Linked DNA regions of Homo sapiens: region 2 is linked to region 1. The links come from fine-mapping of genetic effects on gene expression. Tissue or cell type: monocytes. Region 1 holds a variant in brackets; the other region holds the start of a gene. All regions are shown on one strand. Distances are from middle to middle.

Region 1 (4,354 bases):
GATGCATGCTGGCAGGCAGGGAACTTCAAGACATGCAGGTGGGAGGAGGTCACTGTGGACACACATAGATCCCAAACTGCTGAAAGGCCAGGCCCCCACTTCTTTACCTTCTGATGGTCTCCCTTATCTCCCCAAATCAAATAATTTCCTTGTTCTACCAAAGTACGGGCTTCCTAACCAGCTTTCAAAACTGCACTGGCCCATATCCAACTTACCTTCCCATCTGTGCAGCTGCACCAGGACCATCATCTTCAGCTTATGAAGAGTCACACAGACTAGGGATACAGGTGTTTGTTTTATGGTGCTAAACAGGACACCTCCCAGAAACTGAATCTGCTAGATTGAGCACTACTCCCAAATGAGCATTTGTTTATGTCAAATTGCTTTCTGCACAAATATGAAGCTTCAAAAACATAAACAATGCCTTTTATACATGATCTGTTTTCTTCCAAAAACAAGCCATCTGCAATATAATTCGAGTCCCATTCTACTCTCTTGCTGTCATTTGAGTGATATCACAACCATCAGGGTGTATATTTCATTTCTGCCAGTGGGATTACTACAGAGTTAGTGATCAGTAGTGGCAAAACCAGTTTGTGGGAAAATACTACAATTCAACAAAACCTTAATTAAGCCCAGTTTTCCAAAACAGGGCAGAAGATGATTTGCTACCAGTAGGAGGAAGCATAGCTCAACTGACAGGGTTGGGAAAACCTAGAATTTCAATGCTGTCTGTGACTCTATCTCCAGAAATGAAAAGCTTAACTATTTTCCTCATTAATTAGATGAGAAAAACTATATACTTAGCTTTCCAACACAAATGTTGTAAACAGCTCTATAAAGTGTATAAATTATACATACTCTAGAGAAAAAAAATTATTCAAGGAAGGAAAATTTATCATTTAACTTGGAGGGAGAAAAGAAAACGAAAGGAAACAAAACAGAAACAAGCTTTCATGGGAAGGAAGCCTCTCTTGTACCCCTGATGCAGAAAGTGAGATGAAATAGGCCAAAATGCTCCTTGGCGGCCCTACAAATCCTGCAGGAAGAATTCAGAGTCTGCAGGCAGAAGCTCTCAAGAGCTGTCCTGGGACATGACCCGTTATTACTTCAAGCAATCTTGCATCTCATTCAGCATTCCAAATTGGGAGAGGAGGGATGGGACCACATGCACAAATCACACAATTTCATGCAAGTAGTATCTCTCTACCTCCTGGGATCATGAGGGAAAGAGCACTGGCAGAGAGGGACTTTGTGACTTTCCCCGAGATTTTCTTTTTTTCTGTGCTTTCTAATCGCTGCCGAGCCATGTGAGAAGCGGGTTCACTGGATGGCTTTGAGGAATTATCTGTACTGTCCACACACTCGCTTCGTCCATTTATCTGATCCAAGTGCTCTGAAAAACTGCCAACTGTACAAAGAAGAAGGGATAAACACATTCAGGAAAATCCAGGATAGGAGAGGTGGGAAGACGGGAAGAGAGAGACAGCAGGAAGAGTAAACGCCAGAGAACATACTCCTATGTGGCCAGTAAGTCCAGACGGTGTCAGGCGAACATTAACAACATGTGATTGCTTTGAGAAAGGTGACGTGGAGGAGGAAGAGATGGAAGAGGCATCTATTCAGGCTTCATTCTACCTGTACACAAGTCTGCTAATTCTCAATCCATGACTCCATGTAACCAGAGGAATTAGTTTCTTTCAACAATCTATATTTTTGAAACCTTGCAGAGATAATTCTGGTGCCCCTACCCCCCCCATACCATGAAAGGCTGTGCCATGAATCAAATATTACCTCCCAAACACCATGGCCGCCCACTTCATACTGTGATTACCTTATGATACTGATGATTATCATTATCAATGCTGTTAATTATAATTTTGACCTGTGGACATTTTTTCATCACTCCCTGTAGACTTACGTCTGTGCTGTTAGAACACACCTCATAC[T/G]AGGCTGAGGCAAGTAACTGATAGAAAAGTGCCTAAAGTGTCTCTTCTCACTTCTCAGGCCATATGCCTCCTTTCATTCTAAGCTCCCTGTACATTTCAAAGGACAAGCAAGACAAAGGATATTACTCCCTCCATTACTCAAGTTCACTTCATCCTGCTGGCTTTTAATCCAGTGTATCATATGCTGATCCTCCCTCATGCTATTTCCTCTCCCCTCTAAACCACACCTTCTTTACTTTTAATTTTGTTAATCTTTAATATAAACTGGAGTTATTTTTAACTTAAAAAAAATTAGGGCTTCCCTCAACAACGGAGCGTAAGAGAGGATAAATATGGAGGGGGGTGCAGAAATGGAACATCACTGACCCTGGTCTGGTGAATGCAGAGGCCGAGAGTAAAGAAAGCTCTGCAGCAGGGTGACATTTTGAGTCCCCCAGAAGGAAGCTGAACAGCTATTCCTTTTGATTTGTCCTACTTTTTCTTTCCCAGGTTATCGGTTTTCTATCGTGTTTTTCTTTAAAAACATCATTGATAGCACATTTTTGTCCATCCAGGAGAGAAAATGCTCATCTCATTTTACTTCTACATGCTACATTATAAGCCCCATGTGCTTAAAAATCATCAACTGTCTCATCACCTTTAGAGATACAATCCATGCAGAGTATTAACACCACTATAAATGATCCTTTGAAAGAGCGGCCAGCACATTTCGAAGTGCTGACCATATGACACTGTTTGCCTGGGAAAGAGTTAGACTTAGACTCAACTAGCATTTCTCTTACACTGCTGTCTATATACCACTCAGTGGTATGGTTGTAGTTTGGCCCACGCTCATGGACAAAGTTCAGATCTTACAGCTGTGGTCTAGGCTAAGGGTAGCTGGGAACTTGGACAGCAGCTTTAGTCATAGCACACTTTGTGGTCATCTACTGTGCATATGTACAGGAAAAGATTCATGGACTTCCACATAACACCCATCTGACCAACAAAGGGAGATAACCTTAAGGCAAATATCAATGTTTTTACTCCTATATGCTAAACTCATTCTCATTTAACAGAATATTCCATTCTCTTACAGAAATCAGCTACTGAAGGTCTTGATAAAAACTGCTTCACAAGTAATAAATCTCATCTCACAAAACTTAAGCTTCCCATTGAGTAAGGTACACACTTCCTTCTTTGTAATTTGGTTTGGATGGGATCACTGACAAGTATAAAATGAAAAGCTGAATCTCTTTACAATGAGTAATTGTTGGATACGTTTGACCCCTACATCTAAGACTTCAAGACGTTTATTTTTCATGGCTTCAAACACAATGTAGTCATGATAAAAGAGAAACATGTATAAAGTTGTACTTCCCTAAATGCCAGAGTGTGGATATACAACCTTGTGTCACCTCTCCCTCTTGCCTCTGCCATCTTATTTTGCAGCACTGCATATAAGCGTGAGCTTCTTTTCTGCCAATGGTAGATAATGTCACTTTAATGTTCTCTAAATGTCAAGGGTTCCTTCTTTTTGGTGGTGGAGCAATATAAAAATCAACAAATTTAATTTTACTACAGTCACGGTTTTCAGACTTCCTAATTACCCTTGGCTATAAGCAAATCAGCTCATCTCTCTATTCTGCACAGCCCCCAAGGCCTTTGATTATTTTTAGTGTGCGTATGGGGGAGAGAGAGAGAGAGAGAAAGATGGTGTGAATCTATTAATCAAAATGCATGGCAGGACCTAGGTGAATTTTTTTTTTAATTATGAAAGTAATCAATCAAATGCTTAGACACGATTCCCCTCCCTTCCCCTCCTACCTTTCCGGTAGTGAGCAGGCTGAGGAGACTAAGAGATAGTAAACAGTTCACTATATTAAGAAAAAAATTTTAAATGGAGGTGAATATACTCTATTCAGAGTAAGGTAACTAAGAACCAGATAAAGGCCTTTGTAACCAGGAATAGAAAATACCAAGATATCTACATATGATCTGAGCATCAGCATGAACTAGAGATGGTCAGGCATCTTAGTCTAATAGGTTGCCTTTACACTACTTCCTCATTGCTGTTCTCTTGGCTTTATGATTAGGATAAGTGGAATTACGCAACATGAAAACAGAACTGAAGTGAAGACAGAGAAGAAAATCCAACATTATTTTCCCCCACAATAAACTATAAGCACATGTGAAGCTTCACAGATCCAAACTTCTTAGTGAGGTTGAAATAAATCCAGCCCATAAAATTTTTCCTGAAATGATTAAAAAAAAGCTTACACTATGAATATTCAGTTAGTTTAAAAAATGTTGACGAAAAATCTTGGAATCATTCATGGTTATCAATACAGCATATTGAACGTAGCTTAATGAAAACATTCATTACAGCAATTCTAAGCCATATACATCTCTCATTTTTTGAAAAA
Region 2 (4,177 bases), 48 kb before region 1:
TTCAATATAAGATAAAACCTTTTAAACAGTCAAACTTGGCCAAAACCATTGGGGGGTGAGGGATGATGAGTTTTCTGTCACCTGAGGCATTTCATAATAGACTGAAAAATAATTCAGAGAGTATGTTTTTGTCTACAGAGAGGGGTGAATTAGGGGTGTGTAGGAGAGAATTCAGGCATGAACATCATTTGGATGAGGTGACCTGTAAGAGGATGTGGTTCTTTATATCCAAATTCTGGGACCAAATAAGGTTTCATTCTTGCCTCTAAACTCTAAAACCTATCTTCTCATCTGTTTGCAATAGTTTACATTTTAATCTATTTCATATTTCAGGGTATTATGCCCTGAATATGTGATTTGAATACCGTGGCAGAAGGTCACTCATATTCATTCATTTTATTTTACTCTTATATACTTGCAGTGAGTCTTTTGAATTCATTATGCAAACACATGTAAATCATATGCAAATGATATAGCTTAAGAAAATGACAAAATCTGATGGCCTTAACTGAGCCATCAGACCTTTCTTTAAGAAGGAAAGTAATATGCCTTTCAACATCTCTGGGGCAGGAGACAATTTCCTGAGAGTGATATTTACACGACATTGGAATTCGTTACTCAGTCTTTGCCTCACATTCTGCATATTTATGTGGGACTTTAAGATAAGAAAAGCATTTTCACATACATGATCCTATTTGATCCTCATAATTACTCTGTGATGTAGGCAGAAGAGGAATTATAATTCTTGTTTTTCAGATGGGAAAACGGACTTAGAGAAGTGAAATGACTTGCCCAAGGTCACTCAGTTGGTAAGCAAGGATCTGCGGTCTACCACTAGACTCTTCCCAGTTCTCAGCTCTTCCTAATATACACTGATGGATGTCTTATTTGAAGCAAGGTGGTCCGTCATTGGTCTGGGTTTGCTTAGACTGTGTCTTGCTGATAGCATCTTCAGAGATGATTTTGTTGATGAAGATGGCATTTTAAGGGTGACCAGGAAAAGCCCAAATATGTGTAGCAGGCCTAGCAGACTGCCAAGTACATATTTCCTCCAATCCCCTCTGCTTTTTAGCATCTTTTCTGAAATCTCCAGATGAACAACATTCTTCGCCCCATCTACTCTTCAGCTCCTTCAGGAGGCAAAGTCCTTTCTTAAACTGTGAAGAGTAGCAGCATAGTCTCTGCAGTGAGATTTTCTGGATCTGAAGCCCTAATCTACCACTCTCTAATTGTGTGGCTTGGAGAGATCATTTAATTTCTCTTAAGCATCAGTTTCTACATCTATAAAATGAGGGAAATAATAATATCTCTCTTATAGAATATATGGAAATATTCGAGGATAGGAAAATGCAGCAAAAAACTGCATTAAACCTGACCCAGTGTCTGACACATAGTAAGGACTCAATAAATGGCAGATACTATAGTCATTTGATTCATCATAGTAATACTGTAGAGGTGGTGGTGGTGGTGGTGGTGGTAGTAGTAGTAGTAGCAGTAGTTAAGTCATTGTGAACTCTGATACTAAGAACTGGGCTCTTGGAAATGGAGTGGGAGAACAGTAACACCAAATATATCCTGTATGCCAGAGGGTTGAAGAACAGACAGAACAGGTAGCTAAATGCAGCCTATTGAGGAATGTTTGAACTTTGGCTTTCTTTAATCATTGCCACATCTTGCTCCATAATAAGGGTAATTGTAATCCTGCTTCAAAGCTATTTCTAAGAAGAAATAGAGCCAAGGCTGGCATCCCTAACTCTACTCTCCTTTAGCCAGGCTGCTCTATCTATGGCAGTGTCCCCTACTTCCCCAGGCCAGGTTAGGAGGGAACAAGAGAGTCCACCCCAACTGCTTTAACAAGCCTGAACCGCCAGGTCAAGAGATGAAGTAATCTTCCCCCTATACGAAGACCAGAGGTGGGGATGGACAAGGTGGCCAAGGCAGCAGCTGAGGCTCAAGGAGCAGATACACTCTCAAGCCTGCTCCCTCCTGCTCCAGTTCCCAGCTCAGCAGGTGCCACTGAAGGGCTCAGTTCTTCAGTCTGCCCCTGCAGAGTGCTCTGCCCTTCCATGTTCTCTGACACCTCTTCTATTCACTCACCTAGGACAACTAAGAAAGTGGCCTCCTTGGTGAGTAGAGCTTCCACAGCCTCTCTCGGGGAAAAGGACCAGAAGCTGTTGGAGTTGGCCAAATGCTTGAAGTTGGCATAAAGTCAATTGGAACCATCACAATGAGAGTCTGTGTGATCAGCCCAAAAGGACTGCACAACTGATTCATGTTCAGTGCCAGGAAATGCAACGGGCCATTCTGGGGTTGGGTCCTCAGTTATTTTTGGCAAAGATGGGTGGTATGCAAAAGGGACTTCCTTTTTTTTTTTTTTTTTTTTTTCCAGCACAGAGCCACAGAATGCTGAGCAGTCAACAGCATTTCTTGTTCCAAGATCACCCTTCTGAGTACCTCTCTGGCTGCCAAATTGCCAGGGCCTTCACAGTTTGATTCCATTTCTCAGCTCCAAGCATTAGGTAAACCCACCAAGCAATCCTAGCCTGTGATGGCGTTTGACGTCAGCTGCTTCTTTTGGGTGGTGCTGTTTTCTGCCGGCTGTAAAGTCATCACCTCCTGGGATCAGATGTGCATTGAGGTGAGTCCAAACTGTTTGTCTTTATGCAGATTAAACTGTCTGAAAATTTTGAGATTTAGCACGCAGTCCAATCTGAGCCTTGGCATCCCAATATCTAGTGTCTTTAAAAAGGAAATAAGGTGTATATATAATTTTTTCATTATTGTGAGAAAGGAGCCAAAGAACTCTGCCAGGGGATCATCTGGTGGCATCTTAATAGGAAGCAAAGAGAATTTTTCTCCTCTTCAAACAATTCCACCCAAATAATCCCAAGTGGGTCATAAGATATTAATAGGGTCTGTGTGCACAAAGCAGACCCCTAAACCTGCCTCAACCTAGGGGAGCTGTTGGTTTAACATCCCCACTCTCACATGGCCTCTATCCCAATGAGTCCTTTGGTCTCCTCTCAGGGTGAGAATTAGTAAAGACAGCGCTGTGCCAGGTTTTCGAGCATTGAAAAGATCACTCTGAATGAGTCTGGCTCTCTCTTGGACTTGGACAGCCTTCCATCTGTTTTACTAACCCATAGGAGGAAAATCTGAGAATAGAGCCAAATTGCACCTTCTGTTTTGGACCATAGCAATATTTATCAACCTGTGGGAAGTTCTTGGAGGGGATAATGAGAGAAAAAGGAGAAGGGCCTCCGTCTCTTGCCATCCTCTAAAATGCTTCAAACTTCCTCCCACTTTCTCTGACCCCACAAGTGATCAATACCACGTGGCCTGTCAGACAAGGGCTGCATACAGGAGGAACCATGAGTCTTGGTGGCTTGGTGAGCTGCTGGTCTGGGTTGAGGTAAAAAGAAGAGTAAGAGCCAGGAATAGCCAGATGTGGAGTTGCCCTGGGGCAGGACTAGAAGGAGATCAGAGGATCAGGAAGAGCAGAGCAAAGCCAGCACTGGGGTAAGGCTCAGAGCTGGGTGAGCAGAGCCTTGTTGGTCTGGCATTAGGATGGAATCAGCAGCAGGCCAAGAGGAGGCATCATGCCAATGAGAAATGAAGGCTGGGAAGGTGTGTGTTGCTTTGCTTGGGCTGTCATAACAAATGCCACAGACTGGGCCAGGCGTGGTGGCTCACGCCTATAATCCCAGCACTTTGGGAGGCCAAGGTGGGTGTATGCCTTGAGACTGGGAGTTCGAGACCAGTCTGGGCAACATGGCAAAACCCCATCTGTACTAAAAATACAAATATTAGCTGGGCATGGTGGCACATGCCTGTAATCCCAACTACTCGGGAGGCTGAGGCAGGAGACTCACTCAAACCCGGGAGGCAGAGGTTGCAGTGAGCCGTGATTGTGCCACCGCACTCCAGCCTTGGCGACAGAGCAAGACTCTGTCTTAAAACAAACAAACCAAAAATACACCAAAAAACAAAAACAAACCAAAAAAACCCTGAATACCATAGACTAGGTGACTTAAACAAGAGAAATTGATTGTCTCACAGTTCTGGAGGCTGGAATTTTAAGATCAAGGTGTTGGCAGAGTTTGCTGCTTCTGCACCCTCGCTCCCTGGCATGCAGATGGCCATCTTCTCTCTGTGTCCTCTCATGGCCTTTCCTGTG

The links. PIP is the estimated chance that this variant, and not a neighbour inherited with it, causes the effect. A credible set is the group of variants that fine-mapping cannot tell apart.
Region 2: CD180 starts here. The variant in region 1 is the best candidate, but not a certain one, in a credible set for the expression of CD180 in monocytes (Quach 2016, PIP 0.69).

What each region holds. Positions count from the first base shown.
Region 1 is chr5:67,146,446-67,150,799 of GRCh38, reverse strand. MAST4 (microtubule associated serine/threonine kinase family member 4) reads right to left here. Exons shown (of 29, transcript NM_001164664.2): 24 at 1,211-1,411. Among named protein-coding and RNA genes, the nearest start is that of CD180, 48 kb to the left of the region's middle. The variant T/G (reference allele first, on the strand shown) is at 1,950.
Region 2 is chr5:67,195,013-67,199,189 of GRCh38, reverse strand. CD180 (CD180 molecule) reads left to right here and starts at 2,391. Exons shown (of 3, transcript NM_005582.3): 1 at 2,391-2,638. The coding sequence starts at 2,549. RefSeq lists an enhancer at 3,418-3,567.